2 linked regions of the Homo sapiens genome follow. The protein of the gene in region 1 purifies or fractionates together with the protein of each later gene. This does not show direct contact. Each region holds a gene or a part of one and is shown on either strand. Other genes may lie near its edges.

The links.
Region 2: the proteins of CCNF (region 1) and MYBBP1A purify together in Homo sapiens (affinity purification with mass spectrometry, with the first as the bait; 2 studies listed by BioGRID). This does not show direct contact.

Annotation. Positions count from the first base shown.
Region 1 is NC_000016.10:2,431,702-2,439,816, forward strand, and holds part of CCNF (cyclin-F), read left to right. Parts: intron 1-1,259; coding exon 1,260-1,366; intron 1,367-4,104; coding exon 4,105-4,172; intron 4,173-5,427; coding exon 5,428-5,621; intron 5,622-6,368; coding exon 6,369-6,422; intron 6,423-7,651; coding exon 7,652-7,756; intron 7,757-8,047; coding exon 8,048-8,115. UniProt on the Homo sapiens protein: Substrate recognition component of a SCF (SKP1-CUL1-F-box protein) E3 ubiquitin-protein ligase complex which mediates the ubiquitination and subsequent proteasomal degradation of target proteins.
Region 2 is NC_000017.11:4,537,782-4,545,670, reverse strand, and holds the end of MYBBP1A (myb-binding protein 1A), read left to right. Parts: coding exon 1-61; intron 62-325; coding exon 326-412; intron 413-495; coding exon 496-645; intron 646-749; coding exon 750-920; intron 921-1,024; coding exon 1,025-1,182; intron 1,183-2,505; coding exon 2,506-2,758; intron 2,759-2,929; coding exon 2,930-3,055; intron 3,056-3,138; coding exon 3,139-3,207; intron 3,208-3,779; coding exon 3,780-3,887; intron 3,888-4,106; coding exon 4,107-4,208; intron 4,209-5,186; coding exon 5,187-5,323; intron 5,324-5,703; coding exon 5,704-6,256; 3' UTR 6,257-6,695; coding exon of another isoform or gene 6,696-6,731; 3' UTR 6,732-6,767; downstream 6,768-7,889. UniProt on the Homo sapiens protein: May activate or repress transcription via interactions with sequence specific DNA-binding proteins. Repression may be mediated at least in part by histone deacetylase activity (HDAC activity).

The sequences.
Region 1 (8,115 bases):
GGGCAAAAAGGAAACAAGGATGATATCATTACCAGATGCTTTCTTTAAGACATTCTGATTACAGAAATTCCTACTGCTGTCTCCTAGCACACTAAAATTGCCTCTGTTCATTGCAGTGTCAACAAAGAAAGTACCTTTTTTTTTTTTGAGACAGAGTCTCGCTCTGCCACCCAGGCTGGAGTGCAGTAGCGCAATCTCGGCTCACTGCAAGTTCCGCCTCCCAGGTTCATGCCATTCTCCTACCTCAGCCTTCCGAGTAGCTGGGACTACAGGCACCCGCCACCACGCCCGGCTAATTTATTGTATTTTTAGTAGAGTTGGGGTTTCACTGTGTTAGCCAGGATGGTCTCTATCTCTTGACCTCGTGATCCGCCCGCCTCGGCCTCCCAAAGTGCTGGGATTACAGGCATGAGCCACTGCACCCGGCTGAAAGTACCCTTTTATGGCAGTGAAATTTGCATCCCTTAAAAAATAGGATAGTGTTTAAAAGAATAAGAATACATTCTTGAGGACAAATTCCATGTAACATTTAACACTGAAATGGACTCTAGGAGTTATTTTCTAGATATTGGAACCATAGGCTTACTTTGAGTGACTTAACCTAGAGTATATAGTGGATTCATGGGGAAATGCCAGCAAGAACCCATTTTCTGACTCCCAAAGCCACCTCCATTGCAGGTGCGACACACTTTATGGACCCCAGGGGGTGCTGAATTTCCAATGGCAGTGGAAACTTTGGTGCTTAAAGTGTTCACCTGTGCTCCAGGTCCTGGCCTGGACACTCCTGCGTTGGCCCAGCGCTTAGGCTCCGGGTTCTACCTGAGACCTCCATCATGGGTGTTGTTCTTTGCCCTGAGTCCCTGTGACCTGTTTCCACACTCCCACTAGCAAGGCCTCCAGCGGGGAAGCACAAAACACATTTCCGTCCTGCCTGCCCCCTTTTAGAGTGTTTCCCCTGTCTTTGGGGGTGATACCTTTGCAGGGATGTTGAACCCTCTTTCTCAGCCTAGGTGTTTGTTTCCTCCTTCCCAGATCATTGTCCTCTGCCCTGCTTTAGAACCTCAGAGAAACTCGTTTCTGGGCTCTTTTATCTGCTCAAAGTGACAGTTACTTTCACACAGAGATTGGGGACCTCAACTACTTGGGATGGCGAGGGAGACAGGAGACCCTACATCTGCCTCTCGTCCTCAAGAGCCTCCAGGTGTGGGGCTTTTGGGTGGTGCCTCCATCACCCAGCCCCGGCCCCCGTTGTTCTGCAGGTACACTCCCAGCTGAAGGACCTGGTGGACAACCACGCCAGTGTGTGGGCATGTGCCAGCTTCCAGGAGCTGTGGCCGTCTCCAGGGAACCTGAAGCTCTTTGAAAGGTATCTCTGCACCCTGAGAATGGCTCAGTCTTCTCCTGCCTTGGCCTCCCTATGTGCCAGTCTGTGTCTCACGGCCTGATTCAGCAACGATTTTCCTGTTGCTGTCTCCCATGACATTGCCTCATACCCTGGGGAGTGACTGAGGGTGGCAGACCTCACGCATCAGGCCGCACAAGCCACACACCTTCCAGCAGGCTATGCAGTCAGTCATCCCTCACGCCACTGACACGGGCCCGTGGTGCCTCCAGAGGGCTGTGATCCATTCCCACATGACCCAGACAAGAGTCACCTTCCTGTGGAAACTTCACTCAGCCTTCCTTCCCTTTGGTCAAAACCATCTGAATTCTATCCTATAGCGTTTCACTCACTGGCTGATCCCACCCCAACCTGCACCCCGCACCCTGGCCCCTGTTCACATGTGCTCATGGTCCCAGGTACCCGCCGCCCTCAGAACAAACCAAGGAACCACAGCTCAGGCGGGGATTTTTCTTTTTTGTTGTTGTTTTTTGTTTTTTGTTTTCGTTTTTGTTTTTTTCTTGAGACGGAGTCTCGCTCTGTCACCAGGCTGGAGTGCAGTGGTGCAATCTCAGCTCACTGCAACCACCAACTCCTGGTTCAAGCGATTCTCCTGCCTCAGCCTCCTGAGTAGCTAGGATTACAGGCACGCGCTACCACGCCCATCTAATTTTTGTATTCTTAGTAGAGATGGGGTTTCGCCATGTTGGCCAGGATGGTCTCGATCTCCTGACCTCCTGATCTCAGGCGGGCATTTTTCTGACAGGGATTCGCTGTGAGCCTCGTCCATCTGAGTTGCCAGAAATCCAGATCGACAGCCAACCAGGGCAGGCAGCCATGTTGCCGCGGCCATGCTTGGGCTGCTTCCAGGGGGAATGTATATATTTCTTATTGAGACATTATCCACACATCACACAATTCATCCATTTAAAGTGTATAACTCAGCCGGGTGTGGCGTCACACCTGTATTCCCAGCACTTTGGGAGGCCAAGGCGGGTGGATCACTTGAGGTCGGGAGTTCGAGACCAGCCCGGCCAACATGGCAAAACCCTGTCTCTATTAAAAATACAAAAATTAGCTGGATGCGGTGATGGGCACTTGTAGTCCCAGCTACTCTGGAGGCTGAAGCATGAGAATTGCTTAAACCCAGCAGGTGGAGGTTGCAGTGAGCCAAGATTGCGCCATTGCACTCCAGCCTGGGTGATGGGGTAAGACTGTCTCAAAAAAATAATAATAAAATAATAAAATATGGCTGGGCACAGTGGCTCACGCCTGTAATCCCAGCACTTTGGGAGACCAAGGCGGGCGGATCACGAGGTCAAGAGTTTGAGACCAGCCTGAGCAACATGGTGAAACCCTGTCTCTACTAAAAATACAAAAATTAGCTGGGTGGTGGCACATGCCTGTAATGCCAGCTATTCAGGAGGCTGAGGCAGGAGAATTGCTTGAACCCAGGAGGCAGAGGTTGCAGTGAGCCGAGATCGCACCACTGCACTCCAGCCTGAGCAACAGAGCGAGACTCCGTCTCAAAATAAATAAATAAGTAAATAAATAAATAAAATGTATAACTCATTGGTTTTTAGTATACTGAGAGTTGTACAGACATCACCAGTACTTAACTTTAGAACGTTCTCCTTACCCCAAGAAGAAAGCTTGTCCCCATCAGCAGTCACTTCCCATTTTCCCCACAATCCTGGAAACTCTAGACAACCCCTAATTGATTTTCTGTCTCTCCGGATTTGCCTTTTGTGAGGATTTCACATGGAATCATGCAACACGTGGTCTTTCGTGGCTGGCTTCTTTCACGGACCCTGATGTTTTCAAGGTTCATCTGTGTCATAGCATGTAATGGATAATTCGTATTTGATTACATGTTATTAAGAAATGTTCGACCGAGCGTGGTGGCTCACGCTTGTAATCCCAGCACTTTGGGAGGCCGAGGCGGGTGGATCATGAGATCAGATCGAGACCATCCTGGCTAACATGGTGAAACCCCGTCTCTACTAAAAATAGAAAAAATTAGACAGGCGTGGTGGCGGGCACCTGTGGTCCCAGCTACTCGGGAGGCTGAGGCAGGAGAATGGTGTGAACCTGGGAGGCGGAGCTTGTAGTGAGCCGAGATTGCGCCACTGCACTCCAGCCTGGGCAACAGAGCAGACTCCGTCTCAAAAAAAAAAAAGAAAAGAAAAGAAAAAAAAAAAGAAATGTTCTAGAGCCGGGCATGATGGCTCAAGCCTATAATCCCAGCACTTTATGAGGCCAAGGCAGGAGGATCACTTGGGTCTGGAATTCAAGACTAGCCTGGGCAACATAGCAAGACCCTGTCTCTAGAAAAGAAAATATTTTTTTTTGACTAGCTGAGCATGGTGGCACATGCCTGTAGTCCTAGCTACTTGGGATGCCGGGGTGGGAGAATGGCTTAAGCCCAGGAGGTTGAGGCTGCAGTGAGCTGTGATCGCACCACTGCACTCCAGCCTGGGCAACAGAGCAAGACCCTGTCTCAGAGAGAGAGAGATATATATATATATATGCACACACACACACACATATATATGCACACACATATATATATGCACACACACACATATATATATATATATATATATATATATATATATATATTCAATTCAGGGAACAAGTATTCTGACTTCTTCAAGTGCTGTAGTAGTTCATAACGTTTGTGGCATAAAATATTGTGATGCTTTATGTTCTTAATGTTTCAGGGCTGCTGAAAAGGGGAATTTCGAAGCTGCTGTGAAGCTGGGCATAGCCTACCTCTACAATGAAGGCCGTAAGTCCTCACCCCACCTGCATGTTGGCGCTTCAGATAAGTGTGAGCCTTTGGCCCTATGAAGAAGTGGTCCCCGTGTTAGCAGTTCAGTTGCTGTCCTTGCTCTATCCGATGGCCTGCCTCCCCATTCCCTCTCAGGAGCTCGTGCCCAGATGTACCCTGCTGAGGGACCTGCTAATGATACTCTGACTTTGCAGGTTACGAAAGTCGCCTCTTGTTTTAGCAAACCCTTTAATTTCAGTTGGCAAAGAGTGACTGAGCCAGAGCCTCAGCACGGGGGCTGTTTGGGCTCCCTGCCCTGTGCGCCATGAGCACGCAGACCTGCCTGTGGATGCTGGCCCTCTCCTTGGCCATCCTCTTAGAACTCTCGAGACAGAGTTCAGCGTGCCCTGTAACACAGAGCCAGGCTTCTAAACGGGAAGCAGGTACAGGCAGGTTAGAACTGGCCTGGTGCCTGGATCCCTTCATCCCCAGAGGCCAGGTGCTCCTTGAAAGAAACTTGCGCAGCCTTTTCTTCTACCAGTTAACTGCTTATCTGCTCAGCACCCCAAGGAACGAGCCCATGATCTGTCCCAGCTCTCAAAACAAGTAAACACTGGGATGTAGCCTCCCACATTTGTACTTCTAAACGATCTGGTGTCTTGCTGGGAGAGAGTCCCTACCTGGCCGGCTGGCAGAATTGTGACTGACAGGGACCATGAGCAACACCCTCCTCCAGAATCAGGGGAGCCGAGGTCCTACCCCTACCCTCCCATCAAAGAGCAGTTCCCAGACATAAAATTCACACACCATACAGTTCACCCCTCTAAAGCCTGCAATTCTGTGGTTTTTTAGGATATTCACAGGGTTGTGCAGCCATTGCCACTGTCTAATTTTAGAATATTCTCCTCGTCCCAAAAAGAACCCCCACCCCTGCCCTGGACCCATTACCAGGGGTCAGGCGGTGGTTCCCAGCTGGAGGGAGGGTGGGACATGAAGCGTCGCGGGGTCTCCTTCCCCTGACCTTCAGAATCCAGGCTTCCGGGAGGACCACAGCAGGGGCATTGATCACAATGACCCACCTGTTCTAGACATTAATGAAGTAGGGGGAGAAAAGACAGGTGCCCCCATCCTGGAGGGCTCTACTCTCCTGAAACACAGCTGCTTTGCACTATGGTGGGCTTCAGGCATTACACTTTCCACCAAGACCATGGAGAGCTTTCCACATTCCGTCCCTAAGAGACATCCCTGGGCTCTGTCCTGTCTGTCCCCGCAGTGTCTGTGTCTGATGAGGCCCGCGCAGAAGTGAATGGCCTGAAGGCCTCTCGCTTCTTCAGTCTCGCTGAGCGGCTGAATGTGGGTGCCGCACCTTTCATCTGGCTCTTCATCCGCCCTCCGTGGTCGGTGAGCGGAAGCTGCTGCAAGGCCGTGGTTCACGAGAGCCTCAGGGCAGAGTGCCAGCTGCAGAGGGTGAGTCTGGGCGAGGGGCAGCACCTGCGAGGCCACCTGCAGGGTCCCAGGACACAGGAAGACCCCGAGGGTAGATCCTGGACCCTGGAAAGTCAGGAGCCTAAGGGAAGTGAAGATGCAGAAAACTGAGAGTGCAGATATGGGGAACGCATCTGGAAATCAGCTGGCACAGAGGAGGAAGCCTGAGAGCCAGGGTGGGCTGTGGAGTTCTGGGTACACGTGCTGACAGCTGGAAACATGGGGCTGAGGCTGCATGGGGCAGTGGGAGCTCAAGACACAAATCTGGCCAGGTGTGGTGGCTCACGCCTGTCATCCTAGCACTTTGGGAGGCCGAGGCTGGAGAATTGCTTGTGGCCAGGTGTTCGAGACCAGTCTGGGCAACATGATGAAATCTCGAAACCTCGTCTCTACAAAAAATACAAAAAAGTTAGCCAGGGGTGGTGGTGCATACCTATAGTCCCAGCTACTCAGGAGGCTGCGGTGGGAGGATCGCTTGAGCCTGGGAGGTTGAGCTTGCAATGAGCCGTGACTATGCCAATGCACTCCAGCCTGGGTGACAGAGCAAGACCCTGTTTCCCTTTAAAAAAAAAAAAAAAAAAAGACTGAAATCTGGGAGTGGCCCTCTGCAGGGGAGGGAGGGCCAGACAGCAGGGCCATGGGCATGGGACCCAAAGACAGACAAGGGAGTGGTGGCCCCCGGGCAGTTCTCTGTGCTGGAAATCACACTTCTTTCTCCTTTTTTTAAAGACTCACAAAGCATCCATATTGCACTGCTTGGGCAGAGTGCTGAGTCTGTTCGAGGTGAGTCAAGTTGTTCTCTGCACTGGGACTTTGTGTTCGATACATCCCTAGCCGAGATCCTGGAACTGAAAAGCAGCAGAAGGGGGTGTCCAAGGCCCAAAACAAAAGGCAAGCCTTGCCCAGAAAGGCCTAGCTGGAGAAGCCAGGGGACACATGTGGGCCTGGCCACGGGCTCCGATCCTGGCTCCATGACCCGCCTGGCAGGGGAGTGGGGGACGGTGAGAACAGCAGAGCAGATCTCAAGGAGGCATCGAACCTCGATGCTCACTCGTCTGCTGGCCCTGCTCCTCGTGGGCCTCTCCTGCTCGTGTGGACCTCTCTGCCTGGCCAAAATGGTGAAACCACGTCTTTACTAAAAAACACAAAAATTAGCTGGGCGTGGTGGCGGGTGCCCATAATCCCAGCTACTCAGGAGGCTGAGGCAGGGAGAATTGCTTGAACCTGGGAAGCGGAGGTTGCAGTGAGCCGAGATTGCACCACTGCACTCCAGCCTGGCAACAGAGTGAGACTCAGTCTCAGAAAAAAAAAAAAAAAGTATGGAAAAGGAGGAAGATGGTGAGTAGAGTGATTGAACATCAAGTAAAGAATAAGGGCCGGTCATGGTGGCTCATTCCTGTAATCCCAGCACCTTGGGAGGCCGAGGCGGGTGGATCACCTGAGGTCAGGAGTTTGAGACCAACCTGGCCAATGTGTTGAAACCACGTCTTTACTAAAAAACACAAAAATTAGCCGGGCATGGTGGTGGGCACCTGTAATCCTAGCTACTTGGGAGGCTGAGGCATGAGAGTTGCTTGAACCCGGGAAGCTGAGGTTTTAGTTAGCCAAGATCGTGCCACTATACTTTGGCCTGGGTGACAGAGGGAGACTCTGCCTCAACAACAACAAAAAAACCAGCCAGGCACAGTGGCTCATGCCTGTAATCCCAGCACTTTGGGAGACTGAGGTGGGTGGATCACCTGAGGCCAGGATTTTGAGACCAGCCTGGCCAACATGGTGAAACCCCGTCTCTACTAAAAATACAAAAATTAGCCGGGCATGATGGTGGGCTCCTGTAATCCCAGCTACTCAGGAGGCTGAGGCAGGAGAATTGGTTGAACCCAGGAGGCGGAGGTTGCAGTGAGCCAGGATGGCGCCATTGCACTCCAACCTGGGCGACGAGTGAAACTGTCTCAAAAAATAAAAATGAAAAAGAATAAGGGAACAATGAACTCTGCTGGGATTTATTCTAGGATGAGGAGAAGCAGCAGCAGGCCCATGACCTGTTTGAGGAGGCTGCTCATCAGGGATGTCTGACCAGCTCCTACCTCCTCTGGGAAAGCGACAGGAGGACAGATGTGAGTGGTGCCTGCTCTGGGTCGGGGGGAGTTATGCTGGACAAAGGCGTAGTTGATGCTGGTCCTTGGATGCGTTTCTGTCCACAAAAGGGAGGTGGCTCTTGCTGCTCCCGGTCTCTCAGCCTCCGGGAACCACTGGTCAGTCGGCTATTCTTGGTACCCCCAAAAATGACTCCACCATTTGAGAGAGAAGAGGTGGGAAGTTAGCGTAGTGTCGGCCCTTCTGGGTCTTGGTTCTGAGTTCCTCCCAAGACACAGTTGTACAAAGGCTCGGTGATCTCCCATTGACAGGTGTCAGATCCTGGGCGATGCCTCCACAGCTTCCGAAAACTCAGGGACTACGCTGCCAAAGGCTGCTG
Region 2 (7,889 bases), on another chromosome or scaffold:
GAGCGTGTTTGGCCACATCTGCTCCCACCTGACCCCGCGTGCCCTGCAGCTAATTCTGGATGTGAGTTGGGACCTTTGGGAGTGGAATGTGGGCTGGGGCTCACTGAGCAGCGAGCTGCACCAGGGGTGCCGCTTCAGCCTCCAGCCTCCCTGCCGGGAGCCTGCGGCCGGTGGGAGGGGTCTCAACGAGGCCTTGGCCTGGCCTGGCCGCCTCTCCTAGGCTCCGTTTTCTTCTGGGAAATGGAGGTCTTTGGTCAAGGCTGAGTGGGGCCTGGAGAGGAGGGCGGGGGCTGCAAATGGGTCAGTGGCTGGCACCCCTCCCCAGGTGCTGAACCCCGAGACCAGTGAGGATGAGAATGACCGTGTGGTGGTGACGGACGATTCTGATGAGCGGCGGCTGAAGGGTGCAGAGGTGTTGCCAGCATGGGCCGGGCGGGGGCGGTGGGGAGTGGGACGATCGGGGAGGTGTGTGACGCGCCTGCCTCTACCACACAGGACAAGAGCGAGGAAGGTGAGGACAACAGAAGCTCAGAGAGTGAAGAGGAGAGCGAGGGGGAGGAGAGCGAGGAGGAGGAGCGCGACGGGGACGTGGATCAGGGCTTCCGGGAACAGCTGATGACCGTGCTGCAGGCTGGGAAGGCGCTGGTGAGTGGGGGAGGTGGAGGGGGGGGCGGCCGGGGAGGGCTCGGGTGTCCCCATGTTGTGTGCCTGCCCGAGGCCTGGCTGACCGCTGGGCCTCTGTCCCTCAGGGTGGAGAGGACAGTGAGAACGAGGAGGAGCTGGGGGATGAGGCCATGATGGCCCTGGACCAGAGCCTCGCCAGCCTCTTTGCCGAGCAGAAGCTGCGTATCCAGGCCCGGCGAGACGAGAAGAACAAGCTGCAGAAGGAGAAGGCTCTGCGGCGCGACTTCCAGATCCGGGTGAGCCTGGGGGCGGGCCGCACCCACCCCCGCCTCCCTGTGCGCCCACCCCCGCCTCCCTGTGCGCCCACCCCCGTGTTGCTGACCTGCCCTCCTGGCTGCAGGTGCTGGACCTGGTGGAGGTGCTAGTGACCAAGCAGCCCGAGAATGCCCTGGTCCTGGAGCTGCTGGAGCCGCTGCTGAGCATCATCCGGCGCAGCCTGCGCAGCAGCAGCTCCAAACAGGAGCAGGACCTTCTGCACAAGACGGCGCGCATCTTCACGTGAGCACGGGGGTGCAGGGCGGGCAGGTGTGGCCGGCAGCCCCCAGGCGCAGGAGAGCCAGAGCTCTAGGCTTGCTGTCTGCACAGGAAGGAGAGAGCCAAGCTTCCAGCCTGGGCCCCTAGCTCGCAGGCTCACTGCTCAGCCCTAGAGGCACACGTCACTTAGTGATTCCCACAGTCCTTGCTTCATCCCCGCGTTCTCCCGACACAGTGCCAACAGTGCCCTGGAGCTGGGGTCCATCCCTGCCCTTGACAGTCTCAAGTGGGGCTGTGCCAACAGTGCCCTGGAGCTGGGGTCCATCCCTGCCCTTGACAGTCTCAAGTGGGGCTGTGCTGGGGTGGAGGGGGACAGTGGGTGCACCTGTGGCAGGGGACACCCAACCCAGTCCTCGGAGGTGTAGTGTGCATGGGAGTTTGTCAGGCTGGGAGGCCTTGGGCAGGGCAGAAAGGGAGGAAGAGCATCCTGACGGGAGCTGGTCAGACACGCAGCTGGAAGGTCAGGCAAGCAGCGAGGCCACAGACCCCCGCACCCTCGCAGGCCCTGACCCTAGCGGTGCTGGAGGCCACAGAGGCATTATCAGCAAGAGCAGTGGCGTGGGGAAGGGTCTGAGTCTGGTTTGCCTTTTCAGAAACGGCTGGCAGCGTGGAGAAGGGTTTGGGAGGGGCTGTGCTGGAGGCAGAGGGCCCAGGAGGGAGGCGGTGGCAGGCGTGGGAGAGACAGGCAGGCACCTGGTAGACCTGCCTTCAGAGCTCAGGTGCTGGGGAGGTGAAGGCCTGGGAGCTGGGGCGCTGCGTGGATAGTCAGGAGGGGTGGGGAGTGTGACTGGCAGTGCATTCTTCACAAACCCAGGCCCGCCCGGGCCACGCCTTCTCAGATAGTTCTGCCAGCGTGCGTGGACAGTGTCGTTTGTTGAGCATCCTGCCTCTTGCCCCCATTATATCCCCGGCCCTGCAGGGCCACAGAGGGTTCTAAGCACATGAACCCTTGTCTCGCTTTACAAAAGGCCTGAAGGCCACTGCCCCATGAGAGACAAGTGTAGACAGGAGGGGTGCCCCAGGCAGGCAGTTGGCCCTTGGTGCAGCCTCCACTCAGGGAGCTGTTCTGTTCTCCCCTGGAGCGCCCCTGTCACCCCAGCACTCTGAGCCCACACAGCTTCCAGGCAGCCTGCAGGCGGCCCTGGGCCCTCCTCTGTGGCCTGGGTCGCCTCTGTCGTCTTCTAGGTCTGTTTCCCCACTTATAAAGTGGGACTTGGGTTGGCTCTGCTTGGCGGAGCAGGGTGGACCGAGAATGTTCTGACCAGCTCTCGTCCTCACCACCCACAGGCACCACCTGTGCCGTGCCCGGCGCTACTGCCACGACTTGGGTGAGCGCGCAGGGGCCCTGCACGCCCAGGTGGAGCGGTTGGTGCAGCAGGCTGGCCGCCAGCCCGACTCCCCCACCGCCCTCTACCACTTCAACGCCTCTCTCTACCTGCTCCGGGTCTTGAAGGGCAACACTGCTGAGGGCTGCGTGCATGAGACACAGGAGAAGCAGAAAGCTGGCACTGACCCCAGCCACATGCCCACGGGCCCGCAGGTGAGCAGGGCCTGGCCCAGGAGCAGCCCCAGGCATTTCACAGCCAGGGAGTGGAGGCCGGGACTTCCCCAGGGCCCAACCCTCAGCCTTCTGATGAAGGTAGGCCAGGCTCTGCTCCCATCCCAGGGACCCCTCTCCTGGCCTCACCCAGCTCGCTCTCCCCTGGCCTAGGCTGCCAGCTGCTTGGACTTGAACCTGGTGACCCGGGTGTACTCGACAGCACTGAGCTCCTTCCTGACCAAGCGCAACAGCCCCCTCACAGTTCCCATGTTCCTCAGCCTCTTCTCCCGGCACCCGGTGAGTGTTGGGGCCTGCCCTGCTTCCTCATGGTCCCTGCTCAGCCCAGCCTGCACCTCACAGCCCTTGTCACTCCCCACCAGGTGCTCTGTCAGAGCCTGCTCCCCATCCTGGTCCAGCATATCACGGGCCCGGTGCGGCCCCGTCATCAGGTGAGAGACTTCCCAGCTCCCAGCCCAGGGCCTGTCTGAATTAACCCGCTTAACCCTCTTCTGACTGGATATTGTGAGGCCCCAGAGCGCTGTCCTGGTGAGCACGGGCACAGCTGTCCCTGCCCCACTGGCTTGGCTGTGGGTACATGGTCTCTGAAGGGGGTGGCCGTGCCCTGGCCCCTGCCACACAGTGAACACACAGGAGCTGAGGGGGCAGGGCCAGCCTCACTCCCGCAGCCACTGCTGCCCATCTGGCCACACACAGGATGCCCCTGGTAGTGTCTGCTCTGGTGCCAGGGCTGTTGGGGGCAGGCTGGAGGAAGATGGCACTAAGCCAATAATGGGCAGGAATTGTCCCAACCTGAGGTCCCACCTCTATCCAGCTGGGAGGCCTTGGTGTCCCCACCTGCACACAAAGGCACAGGAGCAGGTAGTCACAGAGCCCAGAGCAGCAGGCAGCCTCACACGCTGCCCACAGCAGTGCCCAGCGGGCCCCCGAGCCCTCATGCATCCCTGAGCCGTGAGCACCCAACGTGCCAAGGCTCCTGCCACCCACCTTTGCCCACCCACAGGCCTGCCTGCTGCTCCAGAAGACCCTGTCCATGCGGGAGGTGAGGTCGTGCTTTGAGGACCCCGAGTGGAAGCAGCTGATGGGCCAGGTCCTAGCAAAGGTCACCGAGGTAACAGCCGGGGGGCGCCCTTTCCCCACCCCCTCAGAATCAGTTCTCCGGGAGACCGATCTCTGGGAAAGAAGTGAGGATTGGAGCCTGAGTCCAGAGTCGGGAGAACTGGGGTTGTCCCAGGAGACGGTCCCTGCCTCTGGGCTTTACTTCCGGCTGGGAAACAGAAAGGCTTTGAGCAGCTCTCCGGAGTGCCTCAGCCTGGCCACCCTTCCCTAGAACTTGCGCGTGCTGGGGGAGGCGCAGACCAAGGCGCAGCATCAGCAGGCACTGTCCTCCCTGGAGCTGCTCAACGTTCTCTTCAGGACCTGCAAACATGAGGTGAGGCGGGGGCCCAGTCCGCGGTCGTGTTCGGGTTCCTCTTGGGGGCCTTGGGGCCTCCCGGCCAGCAGTGCCATGCCCGGGCTGGACTGCAGGGATGGGGGTCATGTGGGGAAACTTCTCAGTGCCTGGGCCAGGGCTCTGGGCTGCCATTTGGGCAGTTACCAAACCATGGATGGGTGAGTGACTTGGGAAGGGACTGTGCCACCCTGTCCTCCTCCTGCAGGGCGGGGTGAGAGGGGGTGGGGTGGCACTGCCACATCCCGTGAGAAAGCCGAGAAGGGGCTGGCAGGGCTGGAGACTGTGGAAGGGTTGGAGAAGATTCAGGGTGAGCAGCCAGGTTTCCAGGCCTGGTACAGGAGTGTGGGCAGCCATCAGGGCAGGGCTGGGAGGCAGCTGGAGGTGGCCATCTGGGTCCCCCGGTCTGGCCCAGAGGGCGGGGTTTGGGAATCTTCAGCATAGGTGCTAGTCAGCCCTTGTGGAGGGAGAGCTTGCCAAGGGGGTGCTGGCAGGCAGAGGCGGGGCCCGGGACGGGGCCTTACAAAACTGGCTGATAGTGAGGAAGCCAGGAGAGCAGGGCTCCCGGAAGCTGGCGGATTCCAACAATAACCCATTCAGGATGTGCAGGAAGGTGGCAGGGTTGGGTGGGGAAGCGCTTTGGCAGCCCCGCGGTGATGGAGTGCTGGGGAGTGGCCCTCTTGGAGGTGGGTGGGCCCGGGCCACTGCTGGAGGGGAGGACACCGAGACTCTGAGACCAGGCCTTTGGCTATGGGAAGGAGGAGAACCAACACCTGGGGCGCGTGTTTCCTCCCTCGGTAAGAGACACGGATGACTTAACAGGCAGAAGGAGAGGCTGAGGCCCAGGAAGGGGCAGGGGTCACTGGTGAGGCAGCAACAGGGCAGAGGTGGGAAGACTGGGAGCCCGCGAGAGGCCCCGCCCTCTGTGGCCCCACAGCTCTGCCTTCCCACCCTCTGCAGAAGCTGACCTTGGACCTGACGGTGCTCCTGGGTGTGCTGCAGGGGCAACAGCAGAGCCTACAGCAGGGGGCACACTCCACCGGCTCCAGCCGCCTGCACGACCTCTACTGGCAGGCCATGAAAACCCTGGGAGTCCAGTAGGTTCTGGGAGGGGGACACACACCTTGGGTAGGGGCTGGGAACACCCTCACGCTGCTGCACACACACACACGCTGCACACACGCTGCTGCACACGCACACTGCACACGCATGCTGCTGCACACACATGCACTCAAGCGCATTCTCAGATGTGGGAGCTGTAGGACCCTCACAGGACCCTCGCAGGAGCCTCGCAGGACCCTCGCAGGACCCAGGGGCCTCGCAGGACCCTCATAGGACCCTCACGGGACCCTCATAGGGGCCTCACAGAACCTAGGGGCCTCAGAGGACCCTCAGAATCCAGGTGGAGGTAGCAGTCGCGGTGGCGGTGGCTGCTGCCCTCGATGGGCACCTTCTAACCTTGCTCACTTCCCTTCAGGCGCCCCAAGTTGGAGAAGAAGGATGCCAAGGAGATCCCCAGTGCCACCCAGAGCCCCATCAGTAAGAAGCGGAAGAAAAAGGGATTCTTGCCAGAGACGAAGAAGCGCAAGAAACGCAAGTCAGAGGATGGCACGCCAGCGGAGGATGGCACACCTGCAGCCACCGGCGGGAGCCAGCCCCCCAGCATGGGCAGGAAGAAGAGGAACAGGACAAAGGCTAAGGTCCCAGCCCAGGCAAACGGGACGCCAACCACCAAGAGTCCAGCCCCTGGCGCCCCCACCCGGAGCCCCAGCACCCCTGCCAAATCCCCAAAACTGCAGAAGAAAAACCAGAAGCCGTCCCAGGTGAATGGAGCTCCCGGGTCCCCCACGGAACCTGCAGGCCAAAAGCAGCATCAGAAGGCTCTTCCCAAAAAGGGGGTCTTGGGCAAATCACCACTGTCCGCGCTGGCACGGAAAAAGGCAAGGCTGTCTTTGGTCATCAGGAGTCCCAGCCTGCTTCAGAGTGGGGCCAAGAAGAAAGCACAGGTGAGGAAGGCAGGGAAGCCCTGAGCACAGGTACGGGCCCCCCTCAGCCCCTGCCTCCATCTGCCTGAGACGCCTATTTTTTTTTTTTTTTTTTAAACCATGATTTTAATACGCAAGCTGTTTCTAAGGCGCTGCCACTGGGGAGGGTGGCTGTTGCCGCCTGCCCGGGCATCCTGCTCTGGCAAGCACAGCCTGAGCCATTCCTGCAGGGGTCCCAGGGTGCAGAGACCTCCCCACCCCCGGTTCTGGGCTGGGACCCTGGCTCCAGGGCCATGTCCAGGGCTCTGGTGTTTGCCTGGGTTGGTGCAGGTTGATGTGCTGGCTGCAGGCAGGTGTGACCATCTCTCGTGCCTGCCACCTCTTTGCCCCCAGGCTTTTTTGCTGTGAGGGAGCCACCAGGGGGTGATTTAAATAGGTTTATTTCTTCATTTACAAGAGGAATATATTTGGCTTCTCTCTTAAGACTCTGAGATTCACAATCAGCAGCTCTAAAAAATAAAGGAGCAGTTTGGCTTCCGGAAGGAAGAGGAGGCAACACTCGGACCTGGTTCTTGTACAACAAGAAAACATCGCTGGGGCCCCGCTGAGGCTGGAGTGGGGGTGGAGGCTGGTCTTTGGAGGATGCCACCCCCACCCCATCCTCTTGTCAGGCCCTCGGGGTACCCCAGAGCTTGGTGGGTGAGTATTCCACCTGCTTACACACCACTGAAGCCACAGCCAGCCAGTAACTAAGGGGCAAGAAGAGCATTGTCCAAGCTGGCTCTTGGGGGGTCCCCCATTGGCCACAAGGCCTCACCCCCCACCCCACCCCCGCACCAGAACCACCTTGATTGCAGCAGAAGTGCAGGGAGTGGGTGACGCAGGGGGCTAAGCTCCCCCAAAGCGGGTTGGGGCTGGTGTGAAGTTGGCAGCTGCATCCTGGTGTGTGCATGGATGGGAGGTGGGTGATCGAAGGCCTGGCCCCCCCCTGGGGTCACTTGGTGGAATGCCAGCAGCCAGTGTTTGGGTAGGGGCCGCCTCTCCCGGGGCCTCAGCCTCAGCTCTGGGGCAGGAAGCTTTGTGGATAGCTGCTTCCTCCAGCAGCCGGAGCCCTGGCTACTGCCCCATGGATTCTGGGAATGGTCTCCTGGGCCCTGCCCCTGGAAAAGGCTCAGCTCAGCCTCGGGGAAGGAGTGGGGTCCTGGCTTGGGGGGTGGTGGCAGGGAGAGAAGCCCTGCAGAGTTGGGCTGGTGTGCACCTGCCAGAGACCTTGAGCCTGGGGGCACAGGTGGTGTACAGCTGCAGCCAGGGCCTTCACCCCTGGTGATGCCAGCTTGTCAGAACAGTCCCCATCTGGGACCTCCAGGCTGGGAGCCAACCCGAGACAGTGAGACAGTGTCCTCCAGGGAGTACCCAGAGACTTGGGCGCCCAGCTTCATTTGCCAGGTTGCGTCCAATATCCCCAAGGTCCGAGGCCCAGCTGAGCAGTGGTCCCTGCATACCAGGCCCTCGCGTGAGCCTCAAAGCCGGGACTGCCGCCCTGAGGCCTGGGCCACCTGCTCTCCGTATGGTCCAGGGTCTGTTGAGTCTTCAAAGCTGCAGATCGTGCTTTGCCCAGCAAGTTGTGTGGGAAAGTCCAGCCCCCTGGCCCTTCGTTCCAGGGAGGGCAGGGACTTGC